2 separate regions of the Homo sapiens genome follow, and region 1 is linked to region 2. A link means that fine-mapping ties the variant in region 2 to the expression of a gene that starts in the linked region. Tissue or cell type: whole blood. Region 2 holds a variant in brackets; the other region holds the start of a gene. All regions are shown on one strand. Distances are between the middles of the regions.

Evidence for each region. PIP is the estimated chance that this variant, and not a neighbour inherited with it, causes the effect.
Region 1: it holds the start of FRMD3, and the variant in region 2 is fine-mapped to the expression of FRMD3 in whole blood (TOPMed, PIP 0.98).

Annotation. Positions count from the first base shown.
Region 1 is chr9:83,535,135-83,543,243 of GRCh38, forward strand. FRMD3 (FERM domain containing 3) reads right to left here and starts at 3,267. Exons shown (of 14, transcript NM_174938.6): 1 at 2,951-3,267. The coding sequence starts at 3,097. RefSeq lists a silencer at 1,220-1,514.
Region 2 is chr9:83,264,050-83,272,158 of GRCh38, forward strand. The region is part of intron 13 of FRMD3 (FERM domain containing 3); the gene reads right to left. FRMD3-AS1 (FRMD3 antisense RNA 1) reads left to right here. Exons shown (of 3, transcript NR_184120.1): 3 at 5,946-6,784. Among named protein-coding and RNA genes, the nearest start is that of FRMD3-AS1, 49 kb to the left of the region's middle. The variant C/T (reference allele first, on the strand shown) is at 3,359.

The sequences.
Region 1 (8,109 bases), 270 kb after region 2:
AGAAGGGAATAATACCTACTCAAAGGTTGGTGGTAGAGATCAGACATAATGAGTGGAAAAGGCTGGCTCATGAGAGATGCTCAAGAAATGGCACCTAGAGCTATTCACATTGTCTCAAGCAATAGTCCTGAAGGTTTCTATCATCTCTTGCATCTACCATGTGTGGCCACTCTCCAGCACCTTGCTAGAGAAACCTGTTTGAGTGGCTCATTTTTCTTTGAATCTGGAATGCTTACCTACTAGAGAACACAGACTAATGAGCTCCCAAGGATGTGTGGCTTGAGTTTCCCCTACTTATTTTGGGGCTCCATAGGCAGCACTCCTGTAGTGAACAGGAGTGAACAACTAACACATGTCCAAGAGCTCCTGCTCCTCCTACAGAGCCTCTAGATCAAGCTCATCCAACCCATGGCCCAGGACAGCTTTGGATGCAGCCCAACAGAAATTCATAAACTTTCTTAAAACATTATGAGACTTTTTGTGATTTTTTTTTTTTTAGCTCATCAGCTATCGTTAGCGTTAGTGTATTTTATGTGTGGCCCAAGACAATTCTTCTTCTTCCAATGTGGCCCAGGGAAGCCAGAAAATTGGACACCCCTGCTCCAGAGCCAGGCAGACACCAGGGATGAGAGCTCCTAACGCAGACAGGCAGATGTGGGCTATGGAGAGAGGGTGACATTCTGTGACAATATATACAATCCTTTAACTTTGTAGTTCTATAGAAGGAAGGAAGCAAACACAGATGGATTCACCCAGAACAAGTGCCAGTAATTCCAAATGGTTTTGTTTCGCATTGTTTTTTAATCCTTTTGTTCTCACTCTAAGCAAATGGGAAGTCTTTGTTACCTGATACCCGGAAGGGCAATTTCAATTCCTGGTCTGGAGTACTCTAGGAAAGTGTGAGGTCTAAAGTTATCCAAATAAAATATTTTAATTTATTTTAATTGGTTAAATAATAATTGTAATTTGGGGGCAGAAAGGGCAGAAAAAGACAAATCACAAAATGAAACATCATAATTTTTTAAAAATCAGTGCCCAAGCCAACATTTTGAAACATAACATTTTAACCTCTTTGGCACTAGTTGGGTCATAAGCACTGGAGTTTTTCAAACTGTTGTTAGACTGGCTACAATTTATTGTTTCTCAAAACACAAGACAACAAATACATGTCCTTTGGGGAATATTTATTATTCTAAGGAAGACTTCATCCTGAGGGAGGGGAAAAAAATGTCAACACCAAGTGGTACAGGGCAGAAGAGGGCTGAGAGACAGAGGAGAACTCAACAGCCTCTCTCCCTGACGGCCCCTCCATCATCTACACATTCATTATGGGTTAAAGGACCTGTACACCCACTTTAGGACTTAAAGCAAAGTGCACAGTCCACACTCTCTGGATCACAAGACTATTAGTACATGCCAGATGCTTCTGTGCAACCCTTGTGGCAGTAGAAACACTGCCTATCCTGCTAATCCTTTTATTATTAAGTTTAGCAGTGCTGCTTAGCTCAGAATGAAATTCAAGCTCCCCCAGAAAATTCAATGGGAGCCTACTTTCCTGGGAGATCATGGGGCATCACATTCCTACCTTGACACTTGTCCGGCTGTCAGGTTACAAATTAATTGCAACTGCCCCCAACATGTCACACACTCCCACTAACAAAAATTAAATAAAAATAAAACAGGGAAAGTCCTTTCATTCCTTCATGGTTTGCACAGCCTAGAGGCTGATTCCTACTCTGGGAGATGCTGCCCCACTCACCTCCCACTGACATGGGTGGTGTGCCCTGTATTACACTAAAAAAAAAAAAAAAAAAAAAAAGCTCAGTCCCAGAGCCTCAAGACTCGACTAGGGTAGGTGAGAAAGGAAATCCCAGAGATAAACAGTTAAATAGATTTAGAAGTCAGAAGTTAATTGTGCTGAGCCCTGACACAACCTTTCCTGATTGTGTGCGCACCGAGTGGGGCATCTTTGGGGTCCTGGAAGAGGGGCTCCCACCTGCCTACATATTCACCCACAGCAAATATGCACACGCACGCGCAACCACATGCACACACACACCTTTGCACCTCACACTAGCTCTCCTGACAGCCCAGAGGCACTTACTACCCGAGGACAGGGCTGCCAGCAAAGCTGCCTTCTCCCAAACAACTCGCCTTCTCCTCCAACTTGGGCGACAGTGAATGTCCACCAAGATTCCACGGGGCTCTTTTACCCAGGACCCAGGTTCCTGCAGGGCTCCCCACTTGCTGGCCTCACAATCCCTTTTCCTTTCTCCGAAACACTCAGACTTCACACATTCCTTTCGAGGTAGCTCCAGTCCGGCGCAGCGCGCGCTCCATCCCTCAAGGCTGGCGCCCAGGGCAGCCCGGCCTCTCTCACTCTGGGGAAACTTCGCCACCGCCCCACGCGGAGAACTAAAGACCACCGGCGGAGGGTGAGGGGGACCGACACGGAGCGGAAAGCAGGTTCCGGGACTGAGGGCGTCTCCGGAGCCTGGGCGCGGGAGACAGAAATGAGTGAACCCAGCTGATGCATGCCTTCTCCACGTGGAAGAAGGGAGGAAATACCAGTGGGCGACATGCAGGTGCCCCTCTCAGCCCTCGGAGCTCCCATCTCCTGGCGGAGTAGGGCCCAGAGGGGCCAGAGTCCCTCCGGAGGCAGCTGCCCCGCGCCCCTAGCCCGGGCGCAGTGAGACGCGCGCGCAGGGTGCACGCGAGGGGAAGGAGACTGGGCGCGGATAACGCGTGCCTGGCGCTTGCAGGGCACCATGCCCCTCCATGCCAGGATAAGGCCCCCCACCCTCAGAGGCCTGAGGAATCGAAATCTGGCTTTCTAGCAGTCCCCCAATCCCCTCCGGGAGTGGGTTCCTTGTTCTCGCATGCCCACCGCAAAGGCCCCCCGCCCTGCTCCCGGCGTGTGCCCCGCGCCCTCGCCCGGTTCCACGCGCACCTGGATGTGGCAGGAGATCTCCGAGTCGTCCAGCAGCCGGATGGTGCATCTCATCTCCTGGCTGAGCGATTTGACGCTGGAGCTCCGAAAGTGGATCATTTTCATGGTCCTCCTGCCTCTCGGCACACAGTGGCAGGAGGCGAACATGCACCGCGGCCGTGGGGAGCGAGCGGGAGGCTCAGGGCCGGCGCGGTGCTCGCCTGCGCGGACACACACGCTCGCACGCACTGTCCGGGACACCTGGGCGCGGCTCAGCCCCGGGACATCGGCAGCGTCGGGCGCCTGCGGACACACATGCCCAGCGGCCGGGGCGCGGCGGGCGGGTCCCTCCCTCTGTTCGCTCGCCTCCGCCTCGCCCCCTCCTTTCCCCGCCTCCTTCTGTCGCGCGCGCTCGTGCGCCTCCCTCTGCCCGGGCTCGCTCGCCGAGGACGCCCAGAGCCTGAGACCCCCGGCGGGCTCGCGACGCACTCACTCCCACGCGCGCCGAGCAGCTGAAGGAGGAGGCGGAGGGATGGCTGGCGCGGCTGGCCCGGGTGCCCTGGTGGTGGCCTGCTCAGTCGCAGCCGCCGCTGCGTCAAGCTGGGCCCGACTGCCTTCCTCAGCCTCACCGCCTCCTCCCTCCCCTGGCCGCTGTCGCTCGGGCTCCCGGTTGTGCTCGTCCCGGCCCCGGCTCCCCAACGCGCTCGACAGCGCCCTGCTCTGCTCAGCTCCAGGGACCTGGCGCGGGTAGGGGACGGAGAGCGATCCTGACCCACACCGCCAGGGGGATTCCGCCTCGGGAAAGGATTGCTGGGCCCAGGGCGAGTGACAGAGAGAGTGACAGCCCTGACACGGCTACACCAGGAATATCGCTAATAGTAAAAATCTCTGGTACTCATGGAGATTGTTTAAGCCATTGTTTTATTTAATGCTAGCTAGGACTCAGTCTCTTTCTCCAAAAAAGAGCCTTCCATGTGCAAATCCTCCTTTAAATCTCCCAACATCTTAGTGTGATCTTTGATAGCATACCTTTGACCCGAGCAAGAGGGATAGGTTCCTATCCTACTCCCCTGCTTTACAGACCTCCTCCAGTTCCCGGTTGCTCAGGAATTAAGAGGTCTAATGGCAAAGCGGATGTGCCCCATCCCGTTTTAGTCCAATCTCTGGGTATTGAGGACTCTGGAATTCCCCACGCGCCTCCAGGGTGTTGAAGGTAGGAGGTATCCTGCCTCTCTGTTGTCCCCAAGGTGGCTAGAGCCACTGTGTCAGGTACCGTAGGCCCGAGAGTGGCCAGGAGCAGCTGTTGAGTCAGGGGTATGGAGCTTGAATGTGAGCACTAGAATGTCCAGGAGCTGGGAGAGATGGAAGTCCTCTCACCCTGTTGCTCTTGCCGGAGCAGAACAGGTCATTAGGAAGGAACATTTGTTAGAAGAGGAGGTGTTGACCAGCTGTCAGCTTTTTCAAGGTTTGTGCCTGCATAGAGTCCCCTCATCCAAAGATATGCCCTGTCCTGGGGGTCGAGGAAGAGTGGCACACAAATTTTACCTGCCCTGGACAGTCTGGTGGGCCATATATTCTCTAGGACACCTAGTGGGGTTGGCTAAGGTTTGGGGGAGTCCGCATTGCATTTGGACTTCTCTCTCTGCCTGCTCCTGCCTCCTCTCCCTGTTGATCACTAATAAATACCACACAGGACAAACTCAGTCTCAGTATCTGCTCCTGGAAATTCCAAATTGCAACAATTTGTCAAGATAGGAGGATAGAGAATGTTTTATGTAGCACTCAATAGCTGACTATTGCTTATGAATATTTAGATGATAGTATGGGGCATTCATGTAGGCTCTTGAGCTGGGCCCTTCAAATGTTAGGGCAGATCCTGATGGAGAGGTCAGTATTGAGGGTATGGGAAGATGTGGATTTCATTCTTGGCCCAGCTACTGGCTAATCCTGGGGATCTTTGAAAAGTCTCTCCATTTCTTTTCTCATTTCAAAGGAGAGAACACCTGTTCATCCCACAGGTGGCTGGGAAGCTGGTATGACACCGGGTCAGTGGAGGACATCTTACAGCTGTAATCTGTAAATCCCCATATGCACATATGAGGTGGCAGGGATGGGACCTGCCCCAAGTTGAAAACTGGATCATCTCTGCTAGCCAAAAGAGCAGACAGCCCAGAGATCAAAGAAAAGTCACCAGCCAAACAGTCCATGCTTTTCTTTTAAGACCACACACACACTTGTCCATCCTATTATAGTGACCGTTAGGCTCCAAAAGAGTCATATCAATACCCAAAAATTGTTACCCCAAATTCCAAGGAAGCAAAATAAGACCAACAAGGACAGTAGTGAAAAAGACAGAATAAAGATAACCCAATGTGGGACTGTAAGAAACAGAATTTTGAAGAAATGAGAAGAATCTGAGATTGGTTGTCTGGCCTGATTAGGAATAAAGGCTGAGATTCAACTAGTATGAAAATACAGGCTCTGGAAGCACTTGGCATGACAGCTAGGTAAATTACCAAGTATGGTCACCTGGATTGAACTACCCAATGAAGACAAGGCTCTGGGAAACCAACTGGCCATTGTCAACAATAATAATAATAATATGAAGATTAGGAAGAACTCAAAGAATGAACTCAAGGGATGAGTTTAAAACTGGACCACTGAAAGAAAAGTAGTGATGCACTAAGTCCTAAATTATCAGCTTATGACTTTTAAACAACTGTATTTTTACAAACAACAGAGCTCAAAGAATATCTTGTTAATTGAGCCACAAGGCCAAAACTGAAAAACCAAATTCACAATTTCATCTACAAATCGCCAAATTACAAAGTCAATTGAATTATCGGCCTCACAAGATTTTATAATTATCAGCAGGAAAGAGTGGGAATCTGGGAATAAGAATAGGACTATAAAAGAAAACTTGAATGATTCCTAGTCACTCAAGCCCCCAAACTCCCTTGGCAGCAGAAGCATGCCCTCTTCCTTATGTAACGAGGCTGTTCCTGCTTTGTTTGAAGATCCTCTTCGGAACTCACTTAAGGCAGTTACCTTGGAAAGGGAAGCCGATCTCCTCCCACCCCTCTCCCACCATCTCTGACTACTCTCACTCTTAATACTTGAACCAGATTCAGTCACACCCTAGGAGACCAACTATAAAGTCAACCCCAAGAAGAGAAAGAATTGCAAGATTCTGCTAATTTACATTGAAGAGTATATGTGTGAATAAACCTGAATCTGTCCATTTGAATTCACTTCCCAATGACTCTGGTTTCAATGTACTATCTAAATTGACTAACTGACTTCTGGACTCAGCTAAATGAAGATGAGAAAAAGGAAATTCCCTGGTACATGTACAGGAAAAGATCCAAAGAATCAAGGAGATGGAAATATTGCAGTGTATTTCCACATGTGGCCAGCTTACCTCTCTTTAACTGTGTCCCCTGAGGGGGCATCCACCAAGATTTTCAAAGAATCATTGGCAAAGGAAGGACTGCCATCTTTGAAAAGCACCAAAGTGGCTGTTCTTTGTAGCAAGAGATGGTTGTGAAAGACACTGCAGTCAAAAGGAGCTCCCTGACTTAAATGGGAAGGATGAGAGCCTGGGCTGGCAGAAGACAAATAGTGGTGCATGACTTAACCCTCAGTGCCAGGGAGGGCTTGGTACAATCATAAGCAGTGGTACCCAAGTAGACTTCAGAATGGTGTGACTCATAGGGATTTTGCTGGTGGCCAAGCATCCAACTAGGACTCAATTTGATCTATAGGACAAACAAGATTTCTACACCAGGTGAACAAAGGCCAGGCTAAAATCCCCCTACAAATATTCCCAAATCTGAACCTGTCCCCCAAAGACAACCAGAAACATTTTTTTATTTTTTATTATTATTATTATTTTTTACCGATTGGGTCCCACTATGTTGCTCAGGCTGGTCTCGAACTTCTGGCCCCAGTCAATCCTCCTGCTTGAGCCTCCCAAGTAGCTGGGATGACAGGCAACAAACAGAGGACATTTGAGTACAGGAAAGGTGGCTCCACTTGAGGCATTAGAATGTCAGCCATAGCAGTGGCTGCAAGTCCAGTTCTTACTAAAGAAGTGGCAATGGGTGAGATTAATTAGTGTCTCACGCTCAGTGATAGTAACTGATATTCTTTACCAAAAAATATGCCTAACCAATGGGTTATAACACTTTGGTAAGCCACAAATAGATAACAGGTGGCCTGCCCACAAAAGATTGATGGTTGTAAATATTGCATCTTGAATTTTTTCATTTTAAGCACTTTTACAGCCATTAAAATTGATAACTTAAAAAGAAATATTTAGGTATAAATCTAACAAAATATGCACAAGATCTTTATGAGGAAAACTACAAGACTCTGGTGAAAGAAATCAAAGAACTAAATAAATGGAGAGCTATTCCATGTTCATGGATAGGAAGACTCAATACTGTTAAGATTTCAGGTCTTCCCAAATTGATCTATAGGTTAAGTGCAACCCAAGTCAAAACCTGAGCTAGTTACTTTGTGGATATCAGCAAACTTTTTTTAAAGTTTATATGGAAAGGCAAAAACCCAGAGTAGCTAACACAATACTGAAGAAAAACAAACTCAGATGACTGATATTACCTGACTTTAAGACTTAATATAAAACCAAAGTGATCAAGGCAGTATGGTACTGGCAAAAGAATAAACAAATTGATCAGTGGAACAAAATAGAGGGACCAGAAAGAAACCCACACAAATACAGTCAATTGATATTTGACAAAGAAGCAAAGTCAGTCCAATGGAGAAAGGATAATCTTTTTGACAAATGGTGCTGGAAAAACTAGACATTCACATGCAAAAAAATGAGTATAGACATAGACCACACACTGTTCACAAATTTTAAGTCAAAATAAATCATTGACTCACATGTAAACAATAAAACTTCTAGGAGATAACATGAGGGAAAATTTAGGTAATCTTCAGTTTGGTGATAAAAATCAACAAACATCAACACATCAAAAGCATAAGTTGGACTCAGTTAAAATGTAAAACTTTTAGGGCAGCTTCAAGATGGCTGACTGGAGACACTGATCACCCAATCTCCCCAAAAAAGAAGAACCAAAGTTAGAGGTGAAAAATCATAACTCAAAAGATTAAGAGACGAGTGTGAAGGCCTATTGGAAAATTCACAAGCAGAA
Region 2 (8,109 bases):
AAAAGACAAATGGTAAATGTACACATTAATAATCAAAAACTTCTGGAAAATAAATCAGTGAGCACATCCAGACAATGGAATATTATTCAGTGCTAAGAAATGCCATGAAAAGCTATAGAGGAAGCTTATATGCATATTATTCAGTGAAAGAAGCCAGTCTGAAAAGACTGCATATTGTATGATTCCAACTAATTGACATTCTGAAAAAGGCAAAATTATGAATATCATAAAAAGACCAGTGGTTGCCAGGAATTAGGGGAAGAGAGAGAGAAATAGGTGGAACACAGAACTTTTAGGGCAGTCAAACTATTATGTATGATACAACAGGGGTAGATACATGCCATTAAACATTTGTCCAAACCCACAGAATGTACACCACCAAGGTGAACCCTAACGCAAACGATCAACTTTGAATAGTCATGATGTCTCAATGCAGGCTCATCAAGTGTAACAAATGTACTTCTCTTGTGTGGGATGTTGATGATGGGGGAGGCTGAGCATGTGTGAGGGAAATTCCCCATATGTGGAAAATTTCTATGCCTTCCTTTTAATTTTACTGTGAACCTAAAAATCATTCTAAAAGTATAACTTCCTTTGAAAAAAAGCAATGCAGGGGAAACCTGACCTACCTGATATTAAAACTATACTGTATAGTAATGGAGCAGGAATAATAAAAGATATAATTCAGAAATATACCCTTTAATATAATGGAAAATTTGTTTATGAAAAAGTTTTGCAAAAAGTTGCTAACCAATTGTGGGGGGAGGGGGGAAGGTATATCCCTATACCATGTCATGCACGTGTAAAAATTCCTAAGAAGATAAAGGGTTAAACTAAAAAAAAAATTAGATACCACGTGAAATTGCCAATTTTGAAGGTCATAAGCAGTTATTATCAGCAATTTCATAGAGTTCAAGTAAATGCATTAATTATGAAGAATAAAAACAGGAAACACTTTTATAATCTTGGCATGGGGAAAACTAACATAAAAACAGAAACCTAAAATATACAGAAAGCAAATAGTTTGCACATACAGAAGTTCTCTGTGCATATAAAAAGTGCCCGTGTCGGCCAGGTGCGGTGGCTCATGCCTGTAATCCCAGTACTATAGGAGGCCAAGACGGGCGGATCACGAGGTCAGGAGATTGGGATCATCCTGGCTAACACGGTGAAACCCCGTCTCTACTAAAAATACAAAAAATTAGCCGGGCGTGGTGGCAGGCGCCTGTAATATCAGCTACTCGGGAGGCTGAGGCAGGAGAATGGTGTGAACCCGGGAGGTGGAGCTTGCAGTGAGCCGAGATGGTGCCACTGCACTCCAGCCTGGGCAACAGAGCGAGACTCTTAAAAAAAAAAAAAAAAAAAAAAAAGTGCCTGTGTCATAAAGTTAACATTAAATAAAAGTTGAAAGCCAAGAACCAATTAGGAGAGAAAACATTAACATTTGTAAAATATAAAGGATTAATATTCACATTATAAAAGAAATACTACAATCTATAAGGAAAGGACAAAAACACAATAGAAATGTACTAAGTAAACAAATAGGCAGTTCTGCAAAGAAGAAATGAAAATACACAATTATTTGAAAAGATCCTCATCTTCACTGATAAAAAGGGATATGCAAATTAAAACAATGAAATCTCATTTTCCTTTCAACCATTTTGCAAAACTTTTAAGAAACTGGCCATATCAGGGTGAGTGATTATGTGGGGGAATAGTCAAGCTCATACTCACCTTGTTAGAATTTGCTTTTAGAGGATAATTTGCCCATTTCCATTAAAAGTTACAATTCGTATATCCTTCAACCCAACAATTATACTTTGAAGCATCTATTAAAGAGAAATGCCTCTGTATACATATGCATTGCAGTACCATCTGTTACAGCCAAAAAACGAGCCATAACCATTTCCAACAATAATTTGGTAATTAAATAACTGAGTTATGATATCTTTATATTACCTAATATTATCCAGCCATTTATAAAAAGGATGTATATTAATATGTATGGATATGGAAAGTCCTTCAAGTCATATGATAAAGTAAGAAAACTAATTCTGCAATAATATATCTTGAACAATCCCATTTATAAAAAAAAAAAATCCTATATCCCATGTGGCAGTATTCATAGATCAACTATTGGGAGTATTAACGGAAAGCATCTATATATTTGTTCTTTTAAAAACTCTTTTATACAAGAACACATCATGTATTATGTCATTATACAAATATAATCAATTTCGTCTCAATTCACTTAGAAGTCAGTTTCACACATGTGCATGAGATATAGCCAATTACAGACATTTTCCAGGTTGTATTTTGTGTTAATCAATTGGTAAAAACCACATTTATACATATAGCCACAGCTTCTTTCTTGCTGTAAGCTCTAACTTTTTAAGTTCCTATTTCAATTCCTATTTCCCTCAAGGACCATAAAATAACAAAATATATTTACAATGAAAAGGAAATTGGCAGAAGGTCAGTTCCAATTCTTTGGCCAATATTTTGAGTAAAGCTCTGCCTTGAGGATAAAAGTGGTGCTCCGCCTCACCCCAGCAAGCAAGCAGATCTGAGCTCTGACCCTTTCAACAATGAAAGGAGGGGGAGCGTGTTGTGATCATCCATTCTGCCTTCTCCCTAATCTTCTCATGTTATGGAACAATCTGGAGGTACACACCACCACTGCCTCCCTCTCCCTCCTGACTCACTGCTGACTAGGGTGTAATTTGTATTTATGACAACTTTATATCATTTGGAACACACCCTCCTGTTTCCCCTTTGCACTGGCTTGCTCACCCTCCTTCCCACTCGTCTCTGCTTTTCTCCCTTCCTCTCTCTCTTTTCATCCTTATCAAAAACCTCTGACACCAAATTCACCCTGGGCCTCTCTCCACCAGCAGTGAGCAGGAAGCTGGAAGCCCGCACACTTCAGGAACAGGATGACAGCCCAGGGCACCACACATACCAGTGTTACGAGCTGTGACCTTGGAGCCGAGTCTCAGCAGACGAACAAACACATTACTGTTGCAGTGGTTCACCATGTGCAATTGGAGGCTTCGTCGAGTCTGGATCTTGACCAAGCATTTTGCCATACTGGTTATTCCAATCCCCTTGGTCTCCTCGGCCTGCATGGCCCAGGGCAGCCTTTCCCTAACAGTCCATTCTGTTTTAAAGGACCTAGGCAGGACCCACTGAATGAATCAAATGTCAGGTTCCTAATGCGGCCAACAGAAATAACTCATGAGGGATCAGCATTGGGAGGGGAGGAGGGAGGGGACGCTATTTTTAAACTCTCCACTCACCCCTCTAACAAACAATGAAAGATTATGCATCATCCCTACTCTAGCCTTTCTAAACCTTC[C/T]GGACCAAAACAGAGGACCCTGTCCAAATGCCTCATCATTTCCTAAGAATCAAATGTCCCCAAAAGATAAGATGACAACTGGATAATTCCATAATGGAGAAATAACCCACTTTTTCTTCTAAAAATTGCTCCTCCAGCCTTTATTATATTCTACAGCAGTACTGTCCAGTAAGATTATAACACAAGCCACTTCAAAGAGGGAAAAAAAGCATTTAAAAAGCAAAATAAATGTATTACAATTAATTTTAATAATGTGTTTTATTTGAAATCGAGATATTCAAATAGTATCTCAACAGGTAATGATATCAAAATTTATTAATAATTAATCAACTCTTTTATTAATAAAGAGTTTGCATTCTTTTTTGGGACGAAGCCTTTGGAATTAGTGTGTGTTGCACACTGCACATGTATAGCACATCTCAATTCGAACCAGCTCCATTTCAAGTGTTCAGTAGCTATATATGGTTGCTGTCATGGTAATCTCAGCTCTTTTCAAAGTGCTGGATTCCTCACATGCCTTATCTCCATCTCATAACAATGCTAATCTTTTCTTCACTTTACAGATAAGGAAACGACAACTTAGAGAGAGTAACTGACCTGACCACAATCACGAAGTTAGTAAGTGGCAAAGCCATGATTTGAACCTAGGCTTCCAATTAATATCGGCTGACTAAAGTTAGTGTTCTAAATGCAGGTGCCATGCAACCACTACATTCTGACTTTTCATGAAAAGGATGAGAAGAAAAAATTTTCCTCACACAATTTCAACACGCCTGCATACATTCTTCTACTTTAAATATCTGTCACCAAAAGATGATTTTCTAATAATCCTCTATGAAACAAAGGTTTATTCAGAGCAGGAATTGAAATTCCATGTTGTTATGCATCAATATAAAATTGATTTAGCATTTCTGGAAAGAAAATTAGCAAAATACATGGATTTTTATAGCTGTGGTATTCTTTGAACCAGAAATTCCACTTTTAAGAATTAACCCTGAGAAAATAATCAGAAATGCTGACAAAAATCTTAAGACAAAGATGTTCATCAGAGTATCATTTATTATAGCCAAAAATGTTTTTTAAGTCAACCTATATTTCCAGTGGGAAAATGGTTAAATACATGTGATGAAATATTGCACAGACATTAAAATTCATGTTTAGAAGAATTTAATGATGTGAGAAAATGCTTGCAATATACTACTAACTGAAAAAAGCATCTTTATATAAATGGTGTGGCATCGACTATGTAAAACTGCACACAGGATAAATGTAAGACCAGACAGTAAATCCCAGAAGGGAAAAAGGGTGTTGCCAGCCATGCACTGTGGCTGAGGTGGGGCAGGCCATTTCCAGGGACCTCAATGGGCCCCCCACTCCCCTCTCCTGGGTGAGCAGCCTCCAGTGTGGCAGAGGAGTTCCTACTCTCACAGGAGTTAGTTAATTTTCAACCCTGAAGCTTGAAAGGAAAATATCCCTAAAAGTTCTCAAAATCTTCAACCCTTTGCAATTCCCCCTGATTATATAATTCTGAGCAGAATCCCCAGGTTTAAAACAGATAGACTGACGCAAAGGTGGGGCCCAGGACTAGTACCTACTACACCTCCCTCACTAGTCACCAACAATGGTTCTTGAAGAACTACTAAAAATCTTTAGGACACTGAAGAACAAATCTGAAAATCACTGTTCACAATAAATCACTACTTTGCAGTAACACACGATGAATTTCATAGATTAACCGGGGCTCATTTGCATGGCAGTAGGCCATGGCTCAATACTGAGGAAATCTCCCTTTGGCCTGTCTGAAGGGAATATAGATAAATCTTTATGTTTATCATCATGTTAAAACAACATATGACCTGACAGCTCACTTGAAACAAACAGACCTTCCAAAGACAAAAGAGAAAACAAGTAAAAAACCTGAAACAAAACTATCACCATATTTTATTTCTGTTTTTTTCTACCAGGATAGTTATTCTCCATAATTCTCAAGCTTAACATCTCACCATTGTTTCAAATGCCTCCTTCCTACCTTTCATTTTAAAAGTATTATTATCTTTGGGAGGCCGAGGCCGGCAGATCACTTGAGATCAGGAGTTCAAAACAAGCCTGGCCAACATGGTGAAACCCCATCTCTATTAAAAATACAAAAAAATTAGCCAGGCGTGGTGGCGGGCACCTGTAATCCCAGGTACTCGGGAGGCTGAGGCAGGAGAATTGCATAAACCCGGGAGGCGGAGGTTGCAGCAAGCCGAGATCTCACCGCCGCACTCTAGCCTGGGAGACAGAGTGAGACTCTGTCTCAAAAAACAAAAGTATTATTATTATTTTACTATAAACAAACAAACAAAAGTATTATTATTATTTTAACTATAGCCAGTCATAATATTTAGCATTTCACATGTTTTTCACTTTTTCCCCTCTTAAACCTGCTCTCACTCTTTACGCTACTTTTCAGAGATCGTAAGTAGATTCCTTTACTCTTGCTTTTTATGGATCTTCTCCTTTCATGGAGAAAGATAAGCTAGCAAGACAAGCATTCTATATTGCCTCAGCCATTTCTCTCTACCTTGTCTGACTCTGCCCACAGGGGTGTCTACCTTTCAAGAGGAACAAGAAAAGAGAGGTGGGAATATGGAACCAAGCCAAAGATTCTGCAGGATCCTGCACAGTGAGCATTGTTCTGGTTCAGGCCACTGTGCTCAACTGAACAGTATCAGTAGCACAACATTTGGATGCCCTTGAATACTGTTCCTGTTTCAATTCATTTGTTTGTCTGAGAATTGGGAATGCATGTCTGGGCAGTGACAAGAGGCCAAAGAAAGCAGAAGATGTGTGAAGAGGAGAATCGATTTTCCATAATGAGATGTCAGAAACACTGCTTGCTAAGTCAGCCTGAAACCAAAGAAGAAGAATGGCATTCAGTGATAAGAACTGTTCATGAGCCTGAATTCCATGGCTGCTCCTGCACAAACCACCGGACACAGATCCGGGGAAAGGCAACAAAGTTGCCTCTACTTTGTGAGTGGCTAGAAGTTACTGGACATCTGGGAGCCCTGGTGCCTTGACTGTAAAATGGAGACAACAACTCCTCTCATGGTTGTTATGACAAGGAAATGAGAGATACATATCAAGTGCCTAACATAGAGCTGGCTCCTATGAACCAGAACTTATTAAGCAATTGTAGAAGGCAAGATTTAAAGCACAGACTTTGGAGCAGTCCTTGGGTTCCAATCCTGGCTGCATCGTTTATCATCTCTGAGCCTCAGTTTCCACATCTGTAACAAAAGCTTTCATTTTACAGATGTAAAAGCAGTGTGTACCTCCAAGGGGTGGTTGTGAGGATTAATCAAGTTAATACACATGGCATTCTCAGATCAGTGCCTTGCACGGCAATTTACTCAATAAATGTTAGCGATTTTTTTTCAATACATGGTCATTTTTTTTTTTTTTGGTCTCTTTTTAACTGCTCAAGAGGAAGACTGTGAGGATTTTAAATAGCCTGGATTCTCTTCCTTCTGTCAACCATATGTCTTAACATACTATTACGAGTTACTCCTCCCCAATAGTAGCAGTATTGCTGGTTGTGAGGAGTTAACCCGGCCATGCCTATTACCTTGGGAAACCTACAGAAGCCTGCTGAATGCAATTTTCTATCTGCAAAATGGTGAGGATACTGGGTGTTTACATGACTGGGTTCCTGACATGGAATAGGCATTTAATAAATACTAACTATAATTATATCATCATCAATATCATGCAATTTATCTACATTAGAAACCAACAGACTTGACAAGTATAGTGGAGTCAGCCATTAGTTAAAATAGTTTGAGAGATTCACTGAAATTTTAGCTAACTGCTAGCTCCAAGTGGAAAGATAATAAATTATTATTACATTCATTAAATGTTCTTTGTAATCAGGTTAGACATTAAGTATCCATTAAAAAGAGTCCTTGGGACTAACATATACTTCAGAGGACTTTTTAAAGATTGTATTAATAAAACATATAAACAATAATTTTAATAATATATTTATGATAGGAGGGGTATATTCTTGGGTATACAGTAAAAAGAAAGGGAAGCTGTTCCCAACATCACTGAGAGACTGAGAGAAAGGACCATATGGCCAGGTAATCAACCATTTGTATAACTTAATTTCCTTGTTTGGAAAGTGAGACAACAGTATCTGTTCTATCCAATTCAAAGAAATGGTCATGAGTGTCAAATTATGATAACTTACATGAACAAAACCCTGGAAATGCATAAGATGCTTTGGCATATTAGACACTGTTCCTCTTATGATTTCCCATATCAGACTGAATGTTTCCTGCCTGTAAGCTGAGATAACTGCTCTCTGGGGCCCAGCATCACCTTGTAGAGTCTGGGGAAAGGTCAATAAAAATCCTCTGGAGAATACAGTTGCAGACAAAGTATAGTTCAAGCAGCACAGCTGGGCATTCTTCAACACCACTGTTCTCAGTAGCTCTAAGACCTCCTTATCATGACTTACTTCCTTGTATTTTCCTGACTCTCCAACTTATTTATAAACGGAAAAGAGCACATCATTCAAAGCAGTCGGTTAACTTAGGTAAGGAAAGCCAACAAGCATGATTGTGACTCAAGATAGTTGCTCTTGTTAAGTCACTGCTCCTGCTCTCCCTCTCCCTCCCCCTCCCCCTCTCCCTCCATCTCTGTCTCCCTCTCTCTCCTCTGTCTCCCTCTCTCTCCACGGTCTCCCTCTGATGCCTAGCTGA